Linked DNA regions of Homo sapiens: all the other regions are reported to be linked to region 1. Evidence: microRNA targets listed by miRTarBase, many of them from high-throughput screens and not tested one by one. Region 1 holds a microRNA gene; each other region holds the end of a gene's coding sequence.
Evidence for each region. The annotated mature microRNA hsa-miR-4776-3p reads CUUGCCAUCCUGGUCCACUGCAU and lies in region 1 at 2,496-2,518, opposite strand. An mRNA with a match to its seed (bases 2 to 7 or 8) in the 3' UTR can be bound and repressed. Matches are read on the target gene's strand: a 7mer-m8 pairs with bases 2 to 8, a 7mer-A1 pairs with bases 2 to 7 and ends in A, and an 8mer does both.

Region 1 (7,308 bases):
CCAAGATAAATAGATAGCAGCTGGGTTATTGAGACCTCATGTTGAGGTTACAGGCTTTTAACACTAAATGCAATGTTCTTTTAATTTTCAAGTAAGAATCATTTGGTGAAAAAAGTAGGTAACCTATTAGTGCCTGTCTATAAAAGAGTGAGGACTTAGATTTCTAAATGCATACTAACAAGTATATTTATAAAGACAGATTTTATTACCTGATTGTATAAAGCAGAAGTCTCCTTTAACAGATTAAAAGAAGAGGTGGGTGGAATATGCTAACAAACAAAGGTCCATGTGTGAATCGGGGGATATTCAGGACTTAACTAGACTTCAGCAGACTCATTTAGGATCTTAAACACTGTCCCAAGTCCAAAATTCACATTTAAGCTGAGAGCAGCTAGGACTTTACTATCTATCTATGGTTTAAGTTGTCTTCCACTCGGCTTGTAAAGCCTAGAGTGTCACTGTTTCTGCCCACAGATAGCTGTCAATCTTGGCCCATAAGGAGATGGAACCATAGGAAATGTTTCATCTCCACTCCCAGCACTTCTTTCCATATAAAAAGATTTCCACTAGCACAGCAGTCCTGACATCTCTGTTCTCAGGAGAAGAGGGAATCATTTAATGTTATTGAGTCCCTTTACCTCCTCATTCTCTTGAGAGCTATGTGCATAGAGAAAGCATACTTTCTGCTCTGCTATTTCAGACCCTACATTTTAGAGTACATTGTCTAATGTTGGAAATAAGGTAGGTAAGTCTCTCTAAATCTGAGATTCAGTGATAGTAAGGCGATCCTCCAAAATCAACTTTAACAATGATAAAATTGATAATTTCCTCTCTATCTATCTTACTCTGTTTTTCAATGACTCAGACTCAGCTGGAGAAGAGAGATGTTCCCTCTCTTGAGCTCACTAAAGACATTCAACAACATGTAATACAATGGGTGGGACATTTGTCTTTTCCAGGCCAAGGAAAAGGAAAACAAACTTAGGTCCCCAAAGACTTAGGATAAAATATCACAGATATAAACTTAGCAAAGTTGAACTCAGCTGTTAGAAAATGGAATTGGATTAGTTTCCTGTGGCTGCTATAACAAATCACCACAAACTCAATGGCTTAAAACCACATAAACTTATCCTCTCACAGTTCTAGGGGACAAAACTCCAAAATCAGTTTCACTAGGCCTACATCCAGGAGTTAGCCAGGCCATGCTCCCTCTGGGAACTCTAAGAGAGAATCTGGCCTTTCCTCTTCCTGCTCATGGGACTGCCAGCACTTCTTGGCTTGTGGCTGCATCACTCCCATCTGCCTCCCTGATCACATTGCCTTCTCCTCGTTGTCAGCTCTCCCTCTGCCTCTCTCTCATAAGGATATACGTGACTGCATCTAGGGCCCATTCTAATAAGCTGTGATAACCTCTTCATCACAATATCCTTAACTTAATCATACCTATAAAGACCTTAAATTTTTAATGTTTTAATTGTTTTTAATTTAAAAATGTCTTTTCTTAGGTTCCTACAGACAGAAACCTTTTTTCTGTATCAGGTAGTATTTACAGATTCTAAGGATTAGGACCTGACGTCCTCGGGGGACTATTTTTCCACATGAGTTCAATAGTCTTGAATAAATATCATTTATATCTCTTTTCTTCTTTTCTCTATGTTCTGAAATTTTACAATTTAAGATGCAAAAATATGTGGTCTAATATCATAGTTTTAGAGAATTAAGAAGGTAAATTCATCCTAGAGTTTGGATCAAACAAATAATATTTAGAAGGAATATATCATAAGGTGATAACTTTGTATGTCGGTATATATGTAAGTGTGGGTGTGTGTAAATCATTAAATTTCCATATATATACCATATAATTTTCTACCTGAAATGTTGTGAGTTAAATCAAAAAATGTAAATTATTCCTACATATCATTAATATTATAAATTCAGGACCATAGTTATTTATATATTTATTTTTAAAATTCTGGTTGAAGCATTTGGTGAAACAGTTCCAGAATTGAGTTTTTTATTCTTTCTATATGTGGAGCATATGGTAAAATTATTCCTATTTCTAATATGAGTTTGGTATTTTATTGTTAAACTCTAGAAAACAACCACCTTTTAGCCAAGAACCTTTGCCCTCTAAGACACACTCAATTGTATTTTACTTTTGCTACCAACATTTAGGGGTTAGTTTACTTTGTGTTATCATATTCCACCAATATTCAAAAGATTTATCACTTGGCAAGAGTTACTGATGACACTCCATGAGTAGGAAACCTCAAATCTTGGTGAAGGGCAGGCACTGAGCTTCTGCTAAGCACTCTCACTAGCTAAGAAACTTGTGCTACATACTACATGTGCCCTGTTTCAGTTAGGACAGGCTATGATATCGTAACAAATAGACCGCCAAATTCAGCTTCTCATGTTTGAGGGAAAAACACATCTATCTCTCTTTTGGACAACAGTCCAGGATGAGGGTTCCAGGTCAGTGGGAGCTCGGCTATATGCAGTGGACCAGGATGGCAAGGGCTCTCCTGAAAGGACAGTAGAGCCCTTGCCATCCTGGTCCACTGCATATAGTCTGCTCCATCTCAGGAAGCCAGAAGGTAGAAGGGGATGCAAAAACACAGCAGTGCAAGAGCTCTAGTATGTGGCCACACAGAATTGCAATGGAGACTGGGAAGTATAGTCTAGCTGTGTGCTCAGGAAGAAGAGGAGAAGGGATTTTGGTAAACAGCTGGCAGTCTTTGCTGCATGCATTATTTCTGCCTCAGCAAAATAAAAGTTGACTATGTAAAACAGAGGTCATGTGTGTAGAGGTCATTGTGTATACCCTTGGGATATACACAAGCATTCAAACCAATGAATAGTGAGAATTTATTCTACCCAAGCAACTATTTATGCCGAATATTCAGAAGGGGAGGGGAGCAGGAAAGAAATGGTTTATTTTCTTTAAATTATTGAAAATATTAGCTTATATCAATTTTCTCAAGTGATGAAAATGCAGGGGTTAAGCCTTTATTTTTTTTTTAAAGTAAATATTAGTATTATGTAGTATATGTTAAGAAGGTTTTTTTCTCTTCATTTCTTAATCTATTGAGGGAAGGACTAGGCAAATGAAGTTAGGCTTCTTTTCTCAGGGGGCCTAACTGTTGGCCCAGGCTGGGTTCCAAGAACTAATACAAGGAATGGTAACTGGTGGGGTTGTCTTTTTGCTGAATGAAGAGAAGAAAAGAAGAATTCCAAGTCTGTTTCCCAGGCACAGGAAGGACCAGGAAGCAAGGAAACTTCCAATTTTCAAGTCCACTGAGCAGAATACAAGAACAGGGTCCAAAACAAAGAGTTCTCCGTTGAGAACCGGCAAGATGGAGCAAGCAAGTCCTGCAGGCAGGCTGGGCCTGGAGAGGCGCCAAGAGGCCACAGCACTCTTGGGAGGAGGTTTTTCTGGACTCTTGAGGAGCTGAGACTTTTATATTCCAACCCTGCCTTTAATTTGAGGTTTGCCTCCTCCCTCCATTTGCAGAAGAGTAATCCGAAGCTAAATCATTCATAACATGAGAATGCTGATCTGTGTCCAGCCCTTGTGAAGGGAAAAGAAAACAAAACTTCACAAACATAATTAGTAGAACTACCTATAAAACCTAATGTTAAAAGAGAAATTAGCTTTCATGGAGAGAAAGTGTGATGGCATGACACAGAAATTAAGTGCACTGAATTTAGATTTGAAAAGAGTTTGATTCAATTCATGTCCCTGCTTCCCAGTAGTCCGTGACCTTGGGCAAGTGACCTATACTCTCTAAATCTTAGTTTCCTTATCTGTAAGATGGGAGATGAAAATAATACCTAATTCATATTTTTTAAGAACTTAATGAAAGAATGTTCAAATGTATCTAATAAGGTATAGGAACTCAACACATGCCAGTTAAACAAATTTCTAATAATTGACTTTCTTATTTCTTCCTTTCTGGGTAAAACAACTGTCCTTTGTATACTTTCATTTTTTGGAGACAGAGTCTCACTCTGTCTTTTTTTGGAGACAGAGACTCACTCTGTCATCCAGGCTGAAGTGCAGTGGTACGATCTCGGCTCACTACAACCTCTGCCTCCCAGTTTAAACAATTCTCCTGCCTCAGCCTCTCGAGTAGCTGGACTAGGACTACAGGCGGGAGCCATCATGCCTGGCTGGTTTTTTTTGTATCTAAGTAGAAATGGGGTTTCACCATGCTGCCCAGGCTGGTCTTGAACTCCTGAGCTCAGGCAATCCACCTGCTTCAGCCTCTCAAAGTGCTAGGATTACAGGCGTGAGCCACTGCACCCGGCCTGCCCCTTGTATACATAAAAAACAATCAATCAAATCTTCCTCCATGACCCCTTAAGCACTATTGAGTAAAGGTGGGATCTTAAGTTGTGACAACTGATATATGTAAAATGTCAATTTAAGAACATCTCCTTTCAGACATGAGTATTTCCCTGCAAACTTAGGTTTATGTCTAAGATCTTAAGGAAATAAATACTATAAAAAGACATAGTTCAAATAATGTATTAATAGAAAAAAGGTCCATAGGAATATCTCAGTGTTTTCTTTTATATGAGATGTATCATATGCTAAGAATATACAATTCTCTAGAATTTATTATTTTTCAAAGTATTCTTTGAGAGGCCATCTCTCCTGTTATTACTTTGTCCAGGTAAGTGGGAATTTCATTCGTGAGGACTCCAAGTCCTATCTATGGAGTCCATTATCACTGGGCATGCCAGTACATCTTCTGGCAAACTGTGACAACAGTCTTCATTGGCAACCGAGAGAACAAAAGAGGATTTTTCTAAAGGTGATGAGGCAGAAAAGGGAAGCAGATGGCCCTGAGGAACACGGAGAAATGTCAAGGGAATTGGCCTCTCTTCTTGGCACTTTGAGGCCTGGCCATGAGGGGTATGTGCCTGTTCATTCCCTCACGAAAAGCGGAGAAGGAAGGATCTAGCCGATTGCACACTAAAGATAACTTGGAAAAGGAACTTGACAGTCCTAGGGAAGAGGAGTTGCAACATAAACTGGAAAGCAGATGAAATCCACTGGTGTGATGAAATTAAAGAGACTTCCCAAATATGCTGGGAAAATCAGTGGAATTTTCAAACCATTGCAAAGTTGTTTCATAAGAATTAGATTAACTAATATTAACTTGTTTCTGGTATGTGTCCAGTACTATGCTAAGTTTGACATGCTTTGCTTCAGTTAATACTCAATCTAGCCCTAAGGGGTAGGCACTAATATTGTCCCCATCATGCAGACCGGAAAATTGAGATTTACAGAGGTTAAGTCTTTAGTCTTAAGTAATTCATGGAATGCAAAGTACAGAGCAAAGATCACTTACCCAGAACTTAGCTAGGAAAAGAAGTGTGTTCATAAATACACTTGTCAGTGATATTTAAATTCTAAGAAAACTTTGCTCACATCTTCTTGAATGAATTGATAACTAGTATAATGTCTGGAAAGGCATGTTTCTCTGAGGTCACATTGCAGCACTTTCAAAAGGGTTTCCCTCAAAGGTGTTTCATCTATTAGTATCAGCAAAAAGATCTCACAGAATGACTAATTTTTAGTAATTATGACCGGCAAGTCTTTGTTGAGTCACTCTCTTCAGAAGTAACACCCTGATTCATCAGATCTGTTTTTAACATTAATTATATTTAACATCTGACATCTTCTTTACCTCTCTCCACATCACTGAATACTACGGAGAAAATAAGGTAAGGCAAACTCAGGTTATGATTAAAATAATAATTGAGCATTAGTGAATTAAATAAAGTAAAAATTGAATGGATTCAACATCCCGTGAAGCAAAACATAAAACATCTTTCATTTCATAAGGTAAAAAAGAACATGAATTTTTCACAATGTCTGATGTTAATGTTGTGCATGGATCACATAATATAAATTAGATGCTTTTATATACAAAAAAATGGTGTTTATGTGATCATCCTAAGAAGTGAGATGAGCAAGGTAGTATCTACTTAAAATATGCTGCCTTTCTATTAAATAACTCATTGTAAAATTGCAAAATGACTTACAATGAACAGCTACAACTTCTAAAATTGTTACTAATGTTTCATTAATAAAGTGTGCCATGGCCTTTCATTAAAGCTGGGTAGTATATGAACCCCTGATGCAGGTATGCAGAAAGATGTCAGCAACACTAGATCAGATGGACTAACTTGGAGAGAAAACTTTTTTTCCCTTGATAGAACAAAAATGTCTGTGGTGACCATTTGTTGTTTTTTGCCAGTCCTGTATCCCCTCCCCTTGTTTTGAGAGTGTCCCTCTGATTTTCTGGGGATCTGCCCATCGCCATTATGAACCATCTTCATGGAACTGTCAAACTATGGATCAAAGTGCAAAGGGGCGAGTTGGCACTTCCTCCCCATCCCTACTCTCACTTGCCAAGACCGATCAGATAGAAGTCCCAGGAATCTGGCCCAAGGACAGAACATGGTTGGAGCTGAGTTTTTTATTTTTTATTTTTATTATATCTTCCCAAAGAGATTGTATCTATTTCTTCACCCAGATCCCCACCACTGCTCTGCATCTATCTCCCTGGAGGTCTGGCTGTGCTTCTATTTCTTAGGTATTGAAAGCTGCTCCACAGTCTTCCACTAAATCCCACTTTTCTTTAAGCTGGCCAGTTTCTGTCTGTTGCTTGCAAAGAAAACGCATTAACTGGTATAGTACAATGTCCTTTCATTTTTACTGAAAATCTTAAATGCTTTTACATCTAAATGAGATCAAACCTTTCCTGAGAATGTTCTTAAAAAAAATAGAACATTTTCAGTGTATGATCAACTCTTCTAGATGAAAACAAAAATTACCAGAATTTAACCTCCATGTCATAATAGATACAAGTAACTACACATAGTAAAAACAAAAGAGTTATCTCTTTTATTCTTCATTTCTTCTAAACTCTTATCATTCTGAGTTATCATCACCGCATGGGGGTGGGGGTGGGGAAATTTAACTCTTTTCTACTTGAAATTTTTCAAAGTCTGTCTTCTAGTATGTTGTTAGAGTCAGTGAGAGGTTGTTGAAAGCTCTCTTTCCAGGTACTAAAAATAGATAAGCTGTATTTCTGGGTTAGGCTAAATGTATGTCCTAAAGATATACTCTAAAGAATGAAAGCATTTTTTTTTTAGACCATTCAGTAAAATTCACTTAGTTTTCAATTATCTGGCCACTTGGAGTTGAAATGGTTAGCAGCTTGAGGTTTGAATTGATTAGATCAATTGAACATAGATCCAGCCATTCACTGAGGAGTGACAGTTACCAGG
Region 2 (7,000 bases), not on the chromosome of region 1:
CTTAATTTCTGACCATACATTCTGTTTAAAATGTTGCATGACTTAGGGAACAAATGTAACTTGAGAGACTATGGAATGATTTGCTCTAAAACATGGACAGTAAGCATTTTAGTGTAGGAGGAGGTATTTTTTGAGTTTATGAATGCTGTTTTATAATCTCTACTCATAGTTTTAAAGCAGTGATTCAAAAGAGTATATATCATTTAATGAATGTTTTTGGTTTTCTAGAATTCTTTGCTGAACTGGATAAAGTAATGGGCCCTCTCATCTTTAATGCAAGCATCATGACAGATCTAGTTCGTTATACCCGGCAGGGACTGCACTGGCTTCGCCAGGATGCCAAGTTGATATCTTGAACTGAACACATTCTCGTTGCCTCTGATTTTCTCCACAACACTGTGTCACATCACGAAGGAAAACTGCCATAACATACCACCTAGTCGACACTAAGAATGAGGAATAGTTTTCTCCTCGTTGGTTCATGTGTTGTTGTTTTTGATAATCCAAAGCGATCATGTCAGTTGGCCCTTTAATATTTCCAATGTGAAAGATTATTTAAATGCTTTTAAATCTGCAGCACATTGATAAGATGGTTTCCGTGAGCTATGATAAGATTGAAATTCCAGTTGCAATTCATAACTAATGAATTGAAATTTTATTTATTTTAATTTTTTTAAGTTCCCAGATTGGGGCTAGTTTAAGACTTAGTTATTTCTGCCTATAAATTTACTCTGTTGAATATTTAGCATAAATTTAATGTAGACATTTTTATTTATATACCTTGGGAGCTTTATTACCTAATATCTTTTTGTGGTAGCTGTTCTAAGAGTAAGAATTGGTTCGTCTAAAATAAGGACATATTCTTTCTACACCTGCTACCTGACCTGATATTTGAAATCTTAACTCCAATTTTATTATTGTGGAATTTACAGTTAGTATTAAGGATATTCTTCTACACATGAAAAAATCACTTAAATATGAGAAAATGGCATTCTACATGTATGTACTATGAAATGTGTCTGATTTGGTATGCATTATTTCAAAAACTGTGAATGTGTGTTAATAACACTACAGCAATCACACAGTGACTATAGCTTGCATTTAATGCATTACAAAAGAGGGAGGACAAACTTTCTAGAAGAAGCATTTCATGTTGAAGGGTTTCATAAAAGGACAATCCTGAACGTTACGGATTTTATTAAAACCATATGTTATTTTTTGTTGCTAATCATTTGACACTTAATCGAAACAGAATAAGTTACTGTGGAAAAAAGGATGATCCAACTCCTGAGGATTGCCGCCTGTGTGTCTTTAATTGATTATCTTTGATAGTTAGAGTTATTTTTCAGATTTTTCCCCCTCATACTGGATTGTGATGCTCTGATATGAGCATGCAATGACTGATACAGAAATAGGCTGGAGCTTCGGTGTGTGCTTTTGCTATACAGCTTACAGTTCTAATGCCTGATGTAGAGATGATGAATTTCTCCTTTTTAAACCTATCTTCTGTTTACTCCTTTTGCATTATGAAGGCCCTCTTCAATGATGTATGTTTCTGATGGAATCAGAAAATTTCACACTAGAAAAGTGTACCTAACTTGATTCAGTGTGAGCTCTTGGGACAGGGAGTGGAGCCAGGGGTAGAGCTTAAAGAAGCTGGCTCTGTAAGAGTTGTATATCAAAGTACCTTTTGCTACAAGGTGCATATAGAAGTCTAAGATAAGAAATGTACCCTCTATACTTTATTTTTCATGCCCCTATCATGTTTGGTGTGCCTTAAATCTTACCTTTAAATGAAGACTCTATGGATTGTTTACAAATGAAGTTTTACACTAGGACCAGATCGTCCATACATGATTGGTCTTCTACAATAATAATGTTCAATTCTTTCATTTTAAATCTTTCTTTAGGGTCATATAAAGATTAGTTCTTTCAGAAAAGCTATTGCTTTGGTACATGACTTAGTCTAACCAGTTGGGTAATGCTGCTTTGAAAAATAGTTTGTCCCTCTCCCCATTCCAAAAATGAATCCATTCAGTCAGAAAAAAAGATTATCCTACTATTTGTAGATGATTGCTAAGGCTTGAAATAGGAAAGGGGAAAGAAGGGATAGAAAAGTTTCAAGTCCAGTAGTGCAGTGAATCCTTTGTGTTTGAGACTTTTTTACACTTATTTCTGAAGTTAGTGAACTTTCATTGTCCCTGTGGCCTCATATTTATAGAGCTTCTTAACTGTTTTGTACCTCAGATTGTTTTTAGATGTCATTGAAGATTGAGATGTACAAATTATGTTGAATTTAACCTGTTTCTCTTGGAGAAATTGCCTCTGATATCTTTCTAACTTAATCTTAGTGTGTTCTAGGAACAGTTTTCCATAAGAGGACAACTTCTCAATGATCATGATAGTTATTTAGTAAGAAATAATGGTTGTTAATCAAATACATGTTATGTCTTGTCCTTCTCTGATTTTTCTGACTTGGATTCCTTAATTTGCAGTGATGTCTTAGAAATGGAAAAAGTATCCTCTGGGCTTTCAGACTTTCAGCAACAACAGCCAGTGGGATACCTCTGAGTTCTTGTGTTCTAGTCTCTTGTATGTCCTGAAAGGCAGCAGGAGCATTTTTGGGGTCACACTGATATTTTGTTAAAGCAGAGTTTCCTGCATGGTTTATGGTGCTGCTCTAATATTTTCTCTTTAAAACTGTGTCAATTTTTGGAGAATGAATTTTTCAACCTTTTCATTGTGGAGGATTTTTCCCACAAGGTAGTAATGGGCAATGGATCAAAATCCTATCATAAATGATTGAATTTTCAATGTCATAGTGTGTGGAAATACTACTCCCTTTCCTCCATGTCTATCTTCTTAGATGTTCTGTCTTTGTCATCATCTGCTCCAGCACATACTTTGGACTCCTTTACAGGTGACCTTCCCCCCTCCCTCCTCAATAGGTGTCCTCAGTGTTTTCTAAGCATTTAAAACTGAATTTGACAAGTGGCTAAAAACTTAGTCTGAGACTTGTACTTAGTATATGGTTAATTATAGAAACAACAACTATTTTAAACAGTTACTCTGTTGACTGCTCTTTATGACTACACTTGTATGCCAGGAGGCAGCAGCCTATACACCATTAGACTCTTTACAAGCAACCAACGAACCAATTGCAGTGGTTGCAGTTGTCACAGTAGTCTTGCCTGGGCCAGACTGGGCTGGGCTGTGGGAAGCATTCCCCTTCAGGGGAGTTTCCACAGCTCAGCCCAGGCTCCAGTCTGGCTAGAGAGCATCCAGCCCATTCCTTGCCTCAGTGCCACCTTTTTCTGGGCAAGTAGCCAAGAAGTGACTTTATATGCAGTGAGTACTTCAGATAAACTTACAGCTACAGCTGCCGAAGAGTGGAGAAGGTTGACCACCATTTATTTAATTCTCTAGTGTAAAAACAATTGAGAGCAGTGTGCGTGAGCCCACAGACACCTGTGTTTCTGGGAGCTCTGGCAGTGGCGGATTCATAGGCACTTGGGCTGCACTTTGAATGACACACTTGGCTTTATTAGATTCACTAGTTTTTAAAAAATTGTTGTTCGTTTCTTTTCATTAAAGGTTTAATCAGACAGATCAGACAGCATAATTTTGTATTTAATGACAGAAACGTTGGTACATTTCTTCATGAATGAGCTTGCATTCTGAAGCAAGAGCCTACAAAAGGCACTTGTTATAAATGAAAGTTCTGGCTCTAGAGGCCAGTACTCTGGAGTTTCAGAGCAGCCAGTGATTGTTCCAGTCAGTGATGCCTAGTTATATAGAGGAGGAGTACACTGTGCACTCTTCTAGGTGTAAGGGTATGCAACTTTGGATCTTAAAATTCTGTACACATACACACTTTATATATATGTATGTATGTATGAAAACATGAAATTAGTTTGTCAAATATGTGTGTGTTTAGTATTTTAGCTTAGTGCAACTATTTCCACATTATTTATTAAATTGATCTAAGACACTTTCTTGTTGACACCTTGAATATTAATGTTCAAGGGTGCAATGTGTATTCCTTTAGATTGTTAAAGCTTAATTACTATGATTTGTAGTAAATTAACTTTTAAAATGTATTTGAGCCCTTCTGTAGTGTCGTAGGGCTCTTACAGGGTGGGAAAGATTTTAATTTTCCAGTTGCTAATTGAACAGTATGGCCTCATTATATATTTTGATTTATAGGAGTTTGTGTCTGGGTCCCAGGAACATCTACTGGGGATGACTGTTAGGCAGCTTGTGATGATGTTTTTTAAAAAACCTAAGTAACTTGGGGAGACAGAGCATTTCAAACCCATATAGACACCTATCATACCTGTATATCCCCTAATACATGGAACATAAATTTCATTTCAGCTTTATGCATTAATGTATTGAAGAGGCAGGCTTTTTTTCCAGTAATAATACTGTACATCTAAGGTTGCTATTCAGTAAAACTAATAGAAGAGATAATTATTGAATACCTTGGAATATGTAGTGAGAAGAGGCCAAATTTTTCATGTTTGTGAGCATGTCTTTCAGATACTCGCTAATGGAGAAATTCACTTTAGACCTCTAGACCCCAAAACCAAGTTAGCAAGTGACAAAAAGTAAATTATTAATAGTCTGTAAAGTGGATGCTGGTCTTACAAAGCTCCTATTCACATGAACCCTATGGTTAATTAGAAAGAACTTGCTGTCTCCAGAAAAGGGAATGGAAATAATAACTATGTATCTTCTTTTCATGTAATTTGGTCACAGAATAAGGTATTCAAGTTAAGTCTAATCCAAGTCTTAGAGATCTTTAAGTATCCTAAAATAGCAGCCTAAGTAGTCATCATGTAAAGAAGTTGACTTTCAGGAATGTCAGCATTGACCTCTCCTTGCCACTGTTACTCAGCTAAACATAACTTGCCATTCTTAAAAATAAAAAAGCTCCCACCCAGAAACTCTAGTGATACTCAGTTTTGACCTCTTACTGCTTCCATGTGGGACTTCTTTTCAGCTTTTAACCATTGGAATTTTCTACCTGCTATGTTCCTCTCTGGAAAATATCAATTTGGAAATGCTGCCTTTCAAATCAATGCCATGATCATCCATATTGTTGAGTTTGTTGTTGGTGTTCCAGAAGTGTCCCCATTTTACAACTTTATGCACACACCTGGCAAATCATTAACATGAGCATTCAACAGTACTGGGATGGGTGGGGTGGGGGTAGGGGGCTCACCAACAGAACTGGCCAGTTGACATTGCCTGAAAAGGCACCACCTTTAAGGGCCAGTTGTGGGGTTGGTAAGCACAGTTATGAAAATTTCTATCTAGCCTCCGTTTTGAATGGTTTTAAGAAATTTTGTATATGGAGGATGGAAATGCTTATATATTTATTGAAAATCCTTTTATTTGAAATTAAAATTATTTGGTATATAATTGTTTGATATTTGGGGAGGGTTTTGGAGGGGAGATAATGTCACTGATAAATTAAAAGCCTGTTGATTTTGCAGAAAGGTACTGTTAGTGACTGATAAGGATGCCTTTGTTTTGTACATGAACCAAATCTTTGTTTTACATTTCTTTTATCCAAAATATTTAGGCATCTGACATTTTCAACCAGAATTTCAATTATATACTGTGATTTTTATTTGTTGCAATACATTACAATTTCAGAGGTACTTTGGGGCTCAAAAGCTAGGATTTCTAAGTCAGTATGTGCATTTCACACGATAAAGCTGTTAATGGTGAGCAAAGTATTATATACTAACTAGATTTTTCCACATCTGTATAGTATATTATATGTATTTTGTGGTATTGAGAGTATAGAAAGTTTAGAGTGTCAAACATGCGTTTAATGTGTATTTTTAAACAAATTTATGGCAATTAAAATATTTGGAGACAAGGGTATCACATTTCAATTTGTAAAGATCTTTTTAACTCTACTGTGTCATTAAGATGCTTTGTACAATGCCAAACCATAGTTGGAGAAACTAAGTTTAATAAATATCAAATAGATTTTCTGTATTAAAGTTACTGAACACTGTACTCTTTATATTTCTTCAACTCTGAGCCCTTTTCATGCAATTCCTGTTTTGTGTCTTAAGGTCCGTTACTACTCTTTAAAAGTCTGTTCCCACCAGCTGAGGTCTCATTTTCTGATTACAGAAATTCTGAACTTGCTGGCCATGGGTCCTTGTGCATATGTCAAAATTCACCTTGTCCCAACAGAAATCTTAAATCTCTTTTGGTGCTTTTGGTGGCTTGGGCTTTCATTGCTTTATTAAACTAGATTTTTCTCTCTGTTCTGCCTTATCTTCAGACAGCCATAGACAAACCTGGGTGCTTCATTAGATGGCAAGTGCTTGACCATCTTTTTTTTTTTTTTTTTTTTTTGAGACAGAGTCTCTCTATGTCACCCAGGCTGGGGTGCAGTGGCATGATCTTGGCTCACTGCAACCTCCACCTCCCAGGTTCAAGTGATTCTCCTGCCTCAGCCTCCCAAGCTTGACCACCTTTGACACCTCCCTGAAGAGTATGGAGTGAAGGGATCCAGGGCCACAGCTTAGGAACTTGCTGAAGTTGATTACGTAGCTATTGATTATGTAGCTCTCACTACACTTTCCAGATTGAGAAGTTAACACATTATTGGGCAATGCTGTTTTTTTCTTTAGTATACAAAATGAATCCTTCTTTCCCTCAAAAGCTTGAATTCCAGACTGCTAAAATTTCAATTTGAGACATTTAATAGTATCCATAGAAAAATAAACTCTAAATTGACAAGTTTAGTTATGCTTATCCATATATCAACATTCTAAGAAGAAATGGAGACCAATTTAAAGCGTACATCTGCCTTTAAATATTAAAAATACAAGATTGCTTCACTTGGGTGTCTCCAGCCAAAATGCAGTTAATCAATATTCCATAGAACGGAGCATTGTCGGAGGTGACTGCTGTCCTTTCTTTCCCTGGTATGTACATCATTCCTGGGCCACACTTAAGGAACAGCGTC
Region 3 (7,276 bases), not on the chromosome of region 1:
TACCTTTATACGTGTGGAATGAGCTCTCCAGTTCCCAAAGTCTCTACCCAGCTGGCTGTATCCATGGAGGCTACTTGCCTATTCCTTTGTGTCCTTGTATGTTCCTTTTCTGGACCCCTGCTCCGTCCACACAGAGATGGAAGACCCAGAGGTGAGAGCAGAGTGACAATGATGACTCACTCACTTCTCTCCCCGCAAACAAGGGTAAATAGCTGATGGCTACATATTCCTCCTCTAATGGGGTTCTGACAGTCCTGGGTGAGATCATGTGTATTCTTTATCTGAAGGGTGGTCCTTGACACAAGAATCAAGTTCTACTTAAGGAAGTATATCACATTAAATGTTATTATTACACTCTTATCTAGAGAACATTGCCTCCAGCTGCAAAGCAAGGGCATTGCCATTATGAAAGCCCCTCAAAGACTCTCTGCTATTTTCAAAACATGGAAAGAAAAAGGGAAAAAAGAAAAAAAAATAATAATTAGAAGGATTTGTTCCTTAATTTGGGCTCCCAAAAATGAGAAATGAAGATTGTATAATGAGGGGAGATACTAATTATTTTAAACTCTCCAAGCAAATCTTCTGAAGCAATCAATTATTTATATACTTTATGTTCTGTCTTTTTGTATTTTTCCTTCTGGTTAAAAACATGCAGGTGAGTCTTGCCAACGTCCTTTCCTATCTGGATCTGTTCTGCCTCATTTCTCTTTCAAAGTCATCTTTCAGGGAACTTGCCCTGATTAATTTGATTTTAACCAAACAAATAAGATATTTGATATATTAATTTAAACTTTTTGAGATGATTGATTAGGAATTGCATCATGTTCACATGAGTATACCGAATTCAAAGTTAAACTTCATAAGCAGGAGTTTTTACACATCGTAACATAATCATTACCCAATACTCGACACTCAATATTTGATACTCAACTGAATGTTTTTGAAATAAACACATTTTTATGTTATCTCTCTGGAGAAAGTAGTATATATCTTTTTACACAAAATATATCAGTGAGAGAGTGTTTGTTTAAGAAAAAAAATCAAAGCACAACAAGTTGAGAGAGTCCAGGCTTTATCAATATAAGTAATAATTTTTTAGAATGGTGATTTGATTTCACCATTTCAATTCAGCAGAGCCTGTATATATATATATATATATATATATATATATATATATATATATATATATATATATTACAATGATCTGTATTTCCTATTGCTAGAAGGATGAAAGTGAATCCATATAAACCATACCAACGCCGTTATGTGTAACTGGTGGTAAAACTTTATTATTCAAGTTTAGATGTAACAGACATCTTTGCTGCCTGAAGATTGTTTGCATAAGAAATACACCAAGAACATGTTTGTGAGTAGAAATGAACATGCACTATGAAAACAAAATAAAATAAAACGAAAAAATTTCATGTGTTGTAAGAACAGAACTATTATAGCCAACATTCTAGTATTCAAATCAGGACTACAAATTGAATTCTTTTTCTTAGCAACATGAAATCATTCCATATGAAAGACATTTTCTGCTGGTGAATATTGCTGTAAGTTAAATTTTACATTGGCATTTTGAGATGTTCCCCCCTCATGCCTCCCCCAAAGTTTTCCATGTGGTTGTCAAATAGTCCGCCCTAAGGAATTTGGCGTTTATTATTGTGATATTTGCCTTATTGGTAGCCATTAAGAAACTATGATTTTATCAGCCTAGTAATAGTTTTGCATCTTCATAGTCAACACTATTGGCTGCCTAGTTGATATTTACAGCTCGTCTTTAAGAAAAATGACCCCAACCTTTCCTGGCCTTTGGGAACTGACAGTTTAAATAACCCCCTTGGCCACATAATAATACTTGGCACTCCTATGGTGCCTTTCAACCAAGGATCTCAAAGTGCTTTACAAACAAGTACTACATTACCATTATTATTATTAATAATATTATTAATACATATATTTTTCAATTTTACAGCTGAGGAACCTGAGGCACAAAAAGAAAAAGTGATATGCTGCAGTTTATATGTTGGGAAAAAAAAAAAAAAAAAAAACAGGGGAAAACCAGAATTGAGTTTTGGGACTCTATGCTCTAGAAGGACAATTTTCTCTGATAAAAGCTAAACATTATTTCCACGGTAAAGTTATTCCTGCTTTTCTCCGGTGTAGGACAGAGTGAAGCTTACAGCTCTCCCTTTCCTTTCAAGAGAACACATGAATGTACATTGTCTAGTTTCTCACGTGTGGATTACTCTTGAATTTCACATTTTCTTCATGTGACATACTTGACATACTTCTGCCCTAGCATATTCCAGAAGTTCTAATTACTGCAATTAACTGGGATGCTTTCTAAGCAACTGCAGCACTATCAGGAACATGTGAGCCCACTGTCTATGAAACAGTACTGAAAAACCAAAAGGAAGTGCTCTGCAAAGAATCCATGCCTCTGCCCTTGGCCGTCTTTCTTTGGGAAAATAACAATGCCCTCCAAAGTCCCGACGGGCGTCCTTCTATCTTCTTCTCATTTGCAGTTGCCTGCTGATAGAATTCCACCTAACAGTACCTACCTTTGATTAGAATATTTAGTTTGATACTCAGGTTGCATTTCAATTCCTCAATTTTCTCTTGTGCCTTGGACAGTCAGCAAGCTTTCACCTTACTGGCTCACCAAAGACGACTTGATCTTTTTTTCTTTTTTTTTTTTTGCCATGGCTCTCAAACCAAAGACAGTAGCTAAAGTTGACCTCCTCTCAACTTAAGGCAAAAGGCTGGCATACAGCACAGAAGCAGACCACCAGCTTCTTTACTCCACATTTCCACCACTGGATGGCAGATATTCCCCCTCTAGAAATGCATTAATTTTATTTACTAAACAGGGCAGCAGTTCACAGGTCTCAAGACCGGTCACTTTGTGATGTTTTGCAGCCACACAACAGGAGGCTAATAATTATTTTAATAGCCATACTGAGACTCTTCAGTTTATTAAGAAAAATGTATTTCCTCAGGCATTTTAAAATATATATACATTTAATATTTTTGGAGCTGTATTTGCATTGGATCATAATAGATTATGTGCACATGTGCAATTATAAACATAATGTGCTACCACAGGCTTCAACAAAGAGCTGTTAAAGATACTTTTTTCCCTTCTCATTAATATTACCTTAGAAAAGAATCCCCATGCTTGTTTTATAAAAATCTACCTTCACTAAAACAGAACAGTTTAGAACAGAACATCACTATCTTAAAAGTTGATTAAAAAAAATCTCAATATGTCATGTAGAGAGAATTGGGCATACTCTTTTCCTTTTGAACTACAGAGTTATCAATTAGAGCTCTGTCCTTTTCTCATATACTTGGAGTCATGTAGTGTCTCTCTCAATCCACAACGTTCTGAGATGGGTTGGCTCTTTATGATTTTTCTATCCCAAACAACAGAATGAATACAGAGGTGAGTGATGAGAGAAAGAGTGAGAAAAGGAAGAATGAGAACGCATGAGCTGGTCCTGGCCTAAAGTTTGATCCAAAGCTCAATTTAGAATATAGACAAATAATTTTAAAATATTTTCAGTTTTTAAATGGCACACAATTTTAGCTGGCACATCATTTTCATCACAGGGGAAGCCTTTTCCAAGAGAGAAAATTCCTAAATCATCATGAAATTCCTCATTAAAAAAAGTTCCGTACCATAATAGCTCGTTTAAAATCACAATTTAAGATAAAATAATTCAGAAATCTTAAATTAAAAAAATAAATTTTATAATATATCTTGAGAGATGGAATAAAGGCTTTAATATGTCAAAAAAGGAGTGTTTAGTGTTATAATAAATTTTTGTCTCTTTCAAAAAAGCCCAACCTCTTCTCCACCAAAATATGTATAATAATGAAAGCAAAAAATGAAAATAAAATTATCAATAATAAAGAAGTATGGAATAAGATCTATCGTGTCAACGCTATCCAAAAATATTCTACTAAAAAGTAGACTGACCATAAATATTCCAAGAATAGTGATATGTATTTTCCAATGCTAGTCGTTACTACTATGTCTGTCTGAGAAAAAAAAAAAATTGAATGAAAATAAAAAGGCATACATGCCAAAAATAAAGAACCTATTTGTGTCCGACACACTAGAGAAATTGCTTAATGAGTAGTTTTGCCCAAAAAGTAATACTTGTCATATTGCCCAAGTTAACCAAACTTCTGGTGTTTTGCTGATTTAAGCAGTCCACATAGATAATGTTGCTTAAGGATTGCCACGATGCATTCTGTTATTCTTTTTACTAAGAAAATTAAATATTGTTGTTTGGGGGAATCTCCTCTCTTTTTTAGATCTTTAATTGTCACCTCTCAAGTCTGGCTATACATTTTGAGATGCATCCATCAAAATTCCTAAGGAAGATAAATTACATCACATAATTTGAATGTCAAAGCTCCTCATTCCACTTCTTTATTTCAGTTTATGTGAATATTAGAGCTACGCGACAGGTGAGATCAGAATAAGGCCCGTTAACAATGAAACTGAAGCAGAGGACTTAGTCCTGATTTCTGTCTCTTGCTTTCTCTTTTCTCTTTTTTTAATATGCAAACAAAAAAATGCAAAAATGAAAATGACAACACAACATCAGAAAGACATTTTTTTAACTTCATTCGCTACAACAGTCACGAACTGGTTGAACTCTACCTGCCATCCAACTTTAAGAAACGAAGACCCGGCACTGTGAAAAAGAAACAAAACCCAAACAAAACAATGATACAAAGCAACTGCGAATTAATGTAAAAATGGAGTGCAAATGCGACTACAGAATGCAAAAAAAAATCAGCGTTGCAGATTCCAGCAACACTTATCAAAATAATTTCTGAAATGTTTCATATGAAACATAGACAAAGCAATAAAAAGAGGATATATGTTTATCATCTTAAGCATAACAATGTGAGTTAAGAGCTTAAAAATTAAAAAAAAAAAAGTACTTGGAATGAATAAGTGCTACCCTTTTTTTCCTAAGTAGGCATAAAAATATTTTCATTTCCTTCTTGTTTTCCATACCATTATAGCAAGAACTTTCATTTGTTTCATGTTACCGTTTACAACTTTAATGCACACACACACACACAAAAGGATATCTACTGCAATAGAAATAGTTGCTTCATTACCTTGTTTGCTACATTTGCAAATGTAAACAGCTAGGCAGAGCCAGAACTGACTCTAATGCATGATGGAATATCTTTGTTGCATACGTACACTGTAGAAAATAATTATTCAATATGTCAGGCACCATTATTTGAAATGTAATACATTAATATTTACTAGAAAAATAAGTTTTTTTTTTCCTATTTGTTCTCCCAACTTCTTTAATGAAATAAGTTAATCTGACAGTGCATCCAGTAGCTTGTAATATCTTCTACATCTCCGTGGCAAAAAATAAACTACTGGTTGGGACAATATAATGCAAATTATTAAAGTCAGTCCTTGTACATACATCCTTGTAGCAAGCATTGAGGCTCGACTAACAGCACCTTTAACCAATTATTTAATGTTCAGTTATTTAGCCCTATTTCCCTGAGCAGTTATGCTGAGGAGCTTTCCCTTCATGGATAGTTTTTACAAAGCCTTAAGTATTAAAAGTTCTATGAGGACATACTTCTAAGAATCCTATTTAATGCTACTTAACTAAATCTGTATACATTTAATGAAGGGATTGGCTGGTACATATACCAACTGTCAGTCTGTGGTAACGTAACCTTAGACGCTGCCTGACCACAAAGTTTGGAAATTATATTTAACCAAAAGAAAATAAATAAATACAGCAGGTTACCTTGTGAAGAAATGCCATGTGTTCTAAACAAATTAAACCCACGGTCTGACATTTGTATCCATCTATGCTTTTGAATTGAGGGGATTCCTTTAGTTATAATGTGCCAAGTGAGATTAGTAACCAACAGGAGGCTTAGAAAAGCAAATCCATACTGGTTCATCACACACAAGAAAGAAATACCTGGCTAAAATGAAATCACTACAGAAGCATCGAGGACATTGTTTTTTAAAATGGGTACATGTGTGGACAAAATGAATCTAAACCGCAAACAAAAGGACTACTGAGTATTTGAACATCTAAAGGACAAAAATATCAGAGAGGGTGTGCATGTGTATGTACAGGCAGGGCTGGGTAAAAACAGCGTGCCACCATCTGTCATGTTGCTTGCTGCACTCTAACCAAGCCTAACCACAGCTCGCATTTCTAGGTCAAAATCTGAAACATGGCCAATGAGAGAAGACTAAATTGAGAGGGCGCCATTTTTCTTTCATTGCCCTGGACCTTCAATTTCTCCTCCTCTGCCTAGGGTTTCATGATCATTATAAATTTAGGCAACAATTTATGGGTTTTGGAACAAATGGTCCAATGGCCAGTCCAGTACTGCTTTAGTATAATAATATGTAAACCCTTTCAAATTCTAGACAGTTTTGGTCTCTTTCTTTATAAATATATTAATTCTAGTCTGGTGATATCTCTTATGGATTATTTCCCCAGTACATATTAGCCAAGATGGTTTTGACTTAACAGGTTTTAAAAAGTGATTGTTTACCATCTTCCATTCTTTCTCATTGACCATTTATCTCACTTTTTAATCTTGGTAACCTACTCATCAAAAGAAAGAATAACAAAAGAAGGGAATTTCATGTTGGATAAGGCAGGCTCTATGAAGTATTTTTTTAATAGGTCTTCATAAGACATTACAAGCTATTGAATTCCCATCAAGAAAACCTATTTCTATTTAATTGTGCTAAGTGCTAAGGTTTTACTCTTTAGGTTTTCCATTTTTTTCCACTTGTGCATTGTTCCTATGCAGGCCCCTCTGGATATGTGTTGTGAAGTCATATTTGTCCGTGCAAAGATGCTGGCATATGCTGCACTGGAAAGGTCCACTGTCACCATGGCAACTCATATGCAAAGCATACATCACTTCATCCAGAAAGACAATGCCACAGTGCACACATTTTGTTGAAAGTTCATCTTGAGTACTTCTATCAACTTTCTCTGTTTTTACTACATTCAAGGGACCTTCATTTTTTACATTTGGTGGTGCCTTCGTTTTCTCCTTGGAGGCACCGTTTGCAGTTGGCCCAGGTCTGGAATGCTTGATCGCCAAATCTAGAGGAATGTCATTGTCTGATCCAACAGCTGAAAAATGAGGAGGCAGATTGAAGGTGGGATAAGGCACATAGTTTTGGCAAGGATTTGGTAGGCCAGGCACGTGACTCAAGTAGTGCGGATTCCCAGGA

Region 2: the mRNA of AFF4 is a reported target of hsa-miR-4776-3p. Seed matches in the 3' UTR shown: 7mer-A1 at 5,163-5,169 and 7mer-m8 at 5,868-5,874.
Region 3: the mRNA of TRPS1 is a reported target of hsa-miR-4776-3p. Seed matches in the 3' UTR shown: 8mer at 2,700-2,707.

What each region holds. Positions count from the first base shown.
Region 1 is chr2:212,923,766-212,931,073 of GRCh38, forward strand. MIR4776-2 (microRNA 4776-2) reads right to left here and starts at 2,571; the gene lies at 2,492-2,571. It overlaps MIR4776-1 (microRNA 4776-1), which reads left to right and starts at 2,492; the gene lies at 2,492-2,571. RefSeq lists an enhancer at 5,003-6,202.
Region 2 is chr5:132,874,415-132,881,414 of GRCh38, reverse strand. It overlaps AFF4 (ALF transcription elongation factor 4), which reads left to right. Exons shown (of 21, transcript NM_014423.4): 21 at 229-6,020. The coding sequence ends at 356. It overlaps LEAP2 (liver enriched antimicrobial peptide 2), which reads right to left. Exons shown (of 3, transcript NM_052971.3): 3 at 6,369-7,000. The coding sequence ends at 6,969. Among named protein-coding and RNA genes, the nearest start is that of LEAP2, 4.2 kb to the right of the region's middle.
Region 3 is chr8:115,407,231-115,414,506 of GRCh38, forward strand. It overlaps TRPS1 (transcriptional repressor GATA binding 1), which reads right to left. Exons shown (of 7, transcript NM_014112.5): 7 at 1,266-7,276. The coding sequence ends at 6,793. Among named protein-coding and RNA genes, the nearest start is that of TRPS1-AS1, 99 kb to the right of the region's middle.